Homo sapiens: one gene and its partner. The protein of the gene in region 2 interacts with the protein of the main gene of each other region in a pairwise test. Each region holds a gene or a part of one and is shown on either strand. Other genes may lie near its edges.

Region 1 (3,500 bases), on a different chromosome or scaffold from region 2:
CTCCAGTAAACAGTCTGCTTCTGCCATGTGAAACAAAACCAACTCCTTCTGAGGAGCCCAAGGGGGTCAGCCAAGGGTCCCCTGTGAGGGCAGCCCCCTCAGGAGCCAGAGCCACAGGCGCCTGACCTGTAAATCACTGCAGTCCCAAGTTCATTATCCCATCCCTTTCCGTCTATTTATGCCATGACCAGTGCCTAGGGAAGGACCCAGAAATGATGTGATGTGATGATACCATAGTGCCAGCCAAAATCCTTCTTCTACCTCCCTGAACTCTCCTTTGGCCAGGTTTCTTCATCTGCTGTGCTATGGTTGTGTGAAATTGACCTTCCTTGCATTTATTCTGTCTCCCTCGCAGAAATTTTATTTATGTCCTTGCTCTTGTTCTCATCAAGCTGTCAGGAAATGACAGTGTGCATTCTCTTTTTTATTTTCTCTCCTTTAAGGCTGGCCCTGGCCCTAAATAACCCACTGTCAGCATGAGGGTGTCTACTGGCGACATTACTCTCCAAGCACAAATCCCTGGGATGGATAGTACTTTAAGCTGCTACTAGAGCAGGTGTCAAGGAATTCTCCGATGGACAAGGACACCGGCCTGTGGGGTGGGTGGGGTCGAGGAAAGGAAAGAGCCATTTCATTCAAGCCAGTCCTGCCTGTGCCCATTCTATTGGGTTTCTGGGTCCCACATTCCTCATAGAGCATGAGACTGAGCCAACATGCTCATGGCTAGTTTCCACGGGGAACCTCCATCATGGCACCTGAGCTACTGAAAATCAAAATCGCTTGATGCCAGGCTGCTGTGGCTACTGACTCAGCCCCCTGCCTCCCACCTGCCATCGAGATGGAGAGCGTTTATGTCCCCAGAACATCTGGAGGCTGAAGTCACGAGGTTGGTTAGTTTGCTCCAGAGCAGCTCTGTCTAATAGAAATGTTTATGTAATTTAAATTTTTTTTGTAGTCACATTTAAAAAAATAAAAGAAGCCACTAATTTTAATACTCTATCATATTTAACTAATATATTCAAAATATTATCATTTTACCATGTAATCAATGCAAAGCTTATTAATGAGCTATTTTGGATTCTTTTTTTGTATTAAGTCACAGAAATCCCATGCATCTGTTATATTTAATGCACATCCTAATTTGGACCAACCACTTTTCAAGCACTCTATGGCTGCATGTGGCTAGTGGCTAGTGTGTGGGACAGTGCAAACATGTGACATTTCCATCATCATAGAAAGTTTTATTAGACAGTGCTGTGCTGGAAGACCAAAAAGTTGTGGGAAGAGGAGTGACAGGTGTGAGCAGAGTGTGCTCCAAAGTTCTCTAGAATTACTGAGTTGTTGGAGCTAATTACAGCAGAAATTGGAATTACAAGGATTGGGATGTTCAAGGAGCCCAGCCCTATGTCTCAGTAGAGATTAAAATGGGCTTTTATGAAAGGCCCTGGGACCATGCATAGTCTGAATGTGTCTGTCCCCTCCAAACTCCTGTGTTGAAATCCTAATCCCCAACGTGATGGTATTAAGAGGTGGGGCATTTGGTTGGTGATTAGGTCGTGAGAGTGGAGCCTTCATGAATGGGATGAGTGCCCTTGTAAAAGAAGCCCCAGAGAGGTCACTTGCCCCTTCTACCATGTGAGGGCACAGCAAGAAGATGCCATCTCTGAACCAGGAAAAAAGCCCTCACCAGACACTGAATCTGCCGGTATCTTGATCTTTGACTTCCCATCCTCCAGAACGGTGAGAAATATGTTTCTATCATTTATAAGTCACCCAGCCTATGGGATTTTGTTATAGCAGCCCAGACGGATGAAGGCAGACCATGCCCATGTTTTGCGGTGCTGCCCCACAGCAGTGGGAAGGCCAGCAAGTATGATCATGGCTCAAGACATCTGCTGGCTAAGCTGCCTCCATCTTAGCTGTTCTGGTCTGTTCAGGGCAGGGGCTGGGAGAGAACACCAAAGTCACATACTTCTTCCAATAACAATTCTGGGTTTGAATCTAATTTGGTGAAGCAGATACAGAAACGTGATCAAATTATGTGTGCCTGTGTCTGTGTGTGCATGTGTGTTCGTGTGTGTGTTCTTGGCAGGAGAGAGGAGGGTCATGTGTGAACTCCAGAAGTACTAACCTGGCCGCCAAAATCAGCTTCTCACCAGCTGCCATCAGAGGACAGTGAAGTGGCAGACTCAAGAGGCTCATCAACATTGTGAGCCATGAAGGAAAGGCTTTGAGTCTGGAAAGAATGAGATGATGGGCACCCGGGCAGACGATCAGGTGGGAGGGAGAAGTGGTAATCAGAGGCATTCTCCAAAGACAAGAGCTGCCAACTCTACAGCAAGGATGTCACCCTGATCCCCAAATCAAGCTTAATTCAGAATCCCACGCAGGCTTTTGTGTGTGGGAAGAGTGCAATTAGCCATCTTTCCCCCTCATTCTCTGAGGTCTCCCTCATATTCTGTTCAGGGAGGCAGCATTGAGGAGCTCCTCATACATAGATTCAAAGCCCAGCTCCCTCGGTGGCTCCAGAATTTCTAGGAGTTTGAAGACTACCACCTGGTTGGAAGGGGGCTACGGGGCTTGCTTTAACGATACATTTGCATAGCAAGTTCCCTCCTCATTTTCCTATAGAGTGTTTGTTTATTTGAGACAGTTTCTAGTTAAAAATACCTCACCCAGCCTTTGGTCCCTCGTGGACTTTGAGTTAGTTGCTTAACCTTTCTGAGCCTTAGTTTCCTCACCTACAAGATGGGAATAATCTTGCCCATCTCCCATGGATTTTGTAAAGATTAAACTGGGGCTTGTCAGCATGGAGCTACCAAGGGCTAAAACTGGAATATGACACCAGGAACTTCAGGCCCCCAACCAAACGTACAAATCTCTGGATCTCTCCTTGCTGGGTCTCCCTTAACAATGATCTACAGCCCCCTCCCCACTGCCATTCACTCCATCAGTGCCATCATTTAGTCACTCAACTCTCATTTATTAAGCAACAGTTGGGTGGTGGGGACTCCAAGATGAAAGGGTACAGTCTGTCCATCTGACACAGGGTATTTCGGATCTATCTACTTGGCACATAAGTATGCACTGTGGGTGACTGGGTTGCCCACTGGTGGGCTTCCACCTTCCCCCCAATCCCCACCAACTGTGTACCAGATTTTGCCAAGGTGGAGGGGCTGAAAGATCCAGCAGGAAGAGATCCAGAGATTTGTATGTTTGGTTAGGGGCCTGGAGTTCCTGGTGTCATACTCCAGTTTTAGTCCTTCGTGGTTCCATGCTGACGTGTCCCACTTTAATCTTTACAACGTCTATGTGAGATGGGAAAGATTATTCCCATCTTGTAGGTAAGGAAACTGAGGTTCAGACAGGTTAAGAGAAATAAATAAGAGACCTGGAGCAGGGGAATAGGGACATGTTGCCCCTTTAAATCATAACCACCAAAGTCTGAAATCAGATACACAACTGGAAATTTATCTGAGCCTCAGATTCCTTATCTGTAA
Region 2 (3,500 bases):
TTGCCATTGCCCAGGTTTCATTTTAAGAGGGAAATAACTGTATCCCCTAGTTTGTATGATAATGAGTAGCTCAAATGAGGTAATGAGCCTCTTAGTACAGAGGCTTTCATATAGTAAGGGCTCAGTAAATGGTAGTGATGATTTTCAATGGCTCATACACCTGCTAGAGTAGGGTTTCTCAACCACATGATTAGACCTGATAATCCTTTGTTGTCAAGGACTATTCTGTGCCTGTAGCAGCATCTCTGGCCCTTTTATGCACTAGATGCCAGTAACACCCCCTGCCCAGGTTGTGACAATCAAAAATGTCTCCAGACATTATCAAATGTCCCTTAGGAGCAAAATCACCTCTAGCTAAGAACCACTGCTCTGGAAATCGGCACTATTGTGAGTGCAAATGTCAATTACAGTCAAATAGCCTCTTGACCTTATTTGTTTTGAGCAATTATTAAATGCTATATTGTACATATTTTGTTAGTTTTTAAAAGCCTCACCTCCACTCCTCTTCTGATAGCAACAGTACCCTCTTCCTGCCTTCAGTGAACCAACCTCATTGCATTTGTACCCTGTGAGCTTTGTGTAAAGTGCAGTGCTTGACACATAGTATATATAATGACAGCAGAGAGTAGTAATATATCTCTCTTTTACTGAGATAGTGTGGGGAGATCTCAAAGCTTCTGAAAGTCACCATATGGAGCTAGAATGAAGCTATTTTAGAAGAAACAGAACTGTCACATAAAACCTGGGATTATCATTTGGACACTGAGCCAAGCCAAGCCTGAAGCCATCTTTACTCCTCAGACTTTGAGTTTATGGAAGTCAATGAGTTTCTTTTCAGTACTAGTTTGGGTGGATACAACTGCCTACTACATTCAGGCACTATTCCAGGTGTCTTTACATGTGCCTTTATTTAATCTTCATAGCAATCTTTTGAGATAAGTAATATATGTGTTCCCAATTTACAGGTGGCAATGAAAAAAAGCTCGGTGAGTTAAGTGACATATCCACGTTCCCACAGCCAGTATGTGATAGAACTGTAATTTTACTTCATTTCCTCCAACTTCCAGTTCAGTCTGTTACACATGCCCCACTGTCAGCTTTGGTGGGGTGAAACGGAGCCACTGAGCAGGAATAACACTCAGTTCTAGTTCTAAGAGAGAGGCTGAACATGAGCAGAACTTTGTCCAAGAAAGATTCCCTGTGTTCTAGAGGATATTGTTAAGTTTTTGCAGATGCATGTTGGATATGTGAAAACTACTTGCTTAGACAGACAACTCCTGCTCACTTCTCGATGTGAGAGAAGGGGAAAATTATACTGGTTGATATAAAACTGCTTTGTTTCAACACATCCAAAAATAGCCAAGGAAAAAACTTATCTTCACTAATAAAGCAAGGCAGACATGAAACCTTCACGCTTGGTGTGGAACACGAATGATCTTATTATCCTGAGCATCTTGATGGTAAGTATAAAAATTTATCTTTATTTGAGTTTCAAGCAAAATATAAAATAGTAATTTTACCTTGCATTTAACACTATCCTGCAAGCTTATGTTCTGCTCCAAAAGTAATCATAATAGAATACCAAAGATACTATTTAGGAGAAGCCCAGCATCCTTCCAGGTCATCTACATGCATTTCTGCCTTTACCTACAACAAACCTGCAAGAAAGTTATTACTCTGATCAACTTACAAGGAAAGTTAAGAACTTTGTCCAAGGTTAGCAGCTAGCAAAAAATAGAGATTACTCAGGGTCTCTCTAAATTCTGAATCAGTACTTTGTATACTACACCAAGCTGTTTGAGAAGTAAGATGCTAAGCATACAACTCCCACACTTTCCTTTCTGACCATTCAATCTCAAGTTTGCACCAGCCCTGCAAAACATGACCAATGCATAAGAAATAATGCTATTCAAAATCAATAAATATTCTATGTCCCTACGATATTGGAGATATAACATTGAGTGGCCTGGGTTGTGAATATTATAATCATCTAACCAGTGGAGTTCTTGGATGAAATAAGCAAATGGATGGACCATAAAGGGGTCATCAAAGTCATGGGATAAAACACTTATATCTTCCAAGTCAGCATGTTGGTAAAGACCATTGAAATAGTTCTCAACTTTGTCACCCATATATCTTTTCATCCACCATTGTTTCACTTGAACTGGTTCAATATCTCCCACATCCATACCTATCTCCTCTATCCTACCGTGCACAATGTGATCAAAGTGACCTTTATAAACTTTTTTTTTTTAAATGGAGTCTCGCTGTGTCACCCAGGCTGGAGTGCAGTGGCAGGATCTCAGCTCACTGCAAGCTCCGCCTCCCGGGTTCACGCATTCTCCTGCCTCAGCCTCCCGAGTAGCTGGGACCACAGGTGCCCACTACCACGCCCGGCTAATTTTTTGTATTTTTAGTAGAGATGGGGTTTCACCGTGTTAGCCAGGATGGTCTCGATCTCCTGACCTCGTGATCTGCCCGCCTTGGCCTCCCAAAGTGCTGGGATTACAGGCATGAGCCACCACGCCCAGCCCTTTATAAACTATTAACACAATTACATCACATACACACACACCCCATATACACACATCTCATACACACACAGAGACTCAAACATACCAGCCTCCAAGTATCTATGGTTTCCTACAGCACTTAGGAGAAATATCGAGGTCTTTTAAGTAATCACCTAAATCCTTAGCAGTTCCGTTAGATTTCAATATGAATAAATTAAACGTTTGCAGGATATGTACAGTGTTCATTTTATACCTGGAAAATTAATAAGATAACATGTTTTCAAGTTTAAAATAGATATGAGATACTAATAAAGTTTACTAAGGTTTTGATCCTCAAACATTACCATAAAAAGCTATACTTTTTTTCTACTACTATTTCCTGTAAATGGTAAATAAAAAAAGATTTTAAAATATTAATAATTGAATAAGTGCTGCCCAAAACAGATCCAAAGAGTCTTGATCAATGCAGAATTCTCTTACACATCAATATGAAATATGAATGGAGATGATATGAGAGGTACAGTCATAGAAAAGTCTATTTATAAAACATTTTCAATACTTAGATTTCACTGGTTATCGTTAATGCATAAATAATTTCTGAGACCCAAAGGGAAAAATATACCAACCTTACCAAAAAAAATTATTCATTTTCTATAGGGATTTTCTTTTGTCATTGTTGTTTTCTTTTGAGACAAGGTCCACTCTGTCGCCCCAGGCTGGAGTGTATTGGCAAGATCATAGCTCACTGTAGCCTCGACCTCCCAGGCTCAAGTGATCCTCCCACCTCAGTCTCTGGAGTAGCTGAGACCACAGGTGTGTGCCACTATGCCTGGCTAATTTTTTTTTCATTTAATTTGCTTTTATTTTTTGTACAATATACCCAATGATGAATAGGTATTCTTATTTTCTTTTTTAAAAAACTTTTGTTTTAAGTTCATGGGTACCTGTGCAGGATGTACAGGTTTGTTACATAGGTAAATTTGTGTC

The links. Proteins that work in one complex are often made in the same cells at the same time.
Region 1: the proteins of DOK5 (region 2) and RAI2 interact in a two-hybrid assay, tested with the Homo sapiens proteins (one large-scale study listed by BioGRID and IntAct).

The regions. Positions count from the first base shown.
Region 1 is NC_000023.11:17,854,799-17,858,298, forward strand, and holds part of RAI2 (retinoic acid-induced protein 2), read right to left. Parts: intron 1-3,500.
Region 2 is NC_000020.11:54,594,093-54,597,592, reverse strand, and holds part of DOK5 (docking protein 5), read right to left. Parts: intron 1-3,500.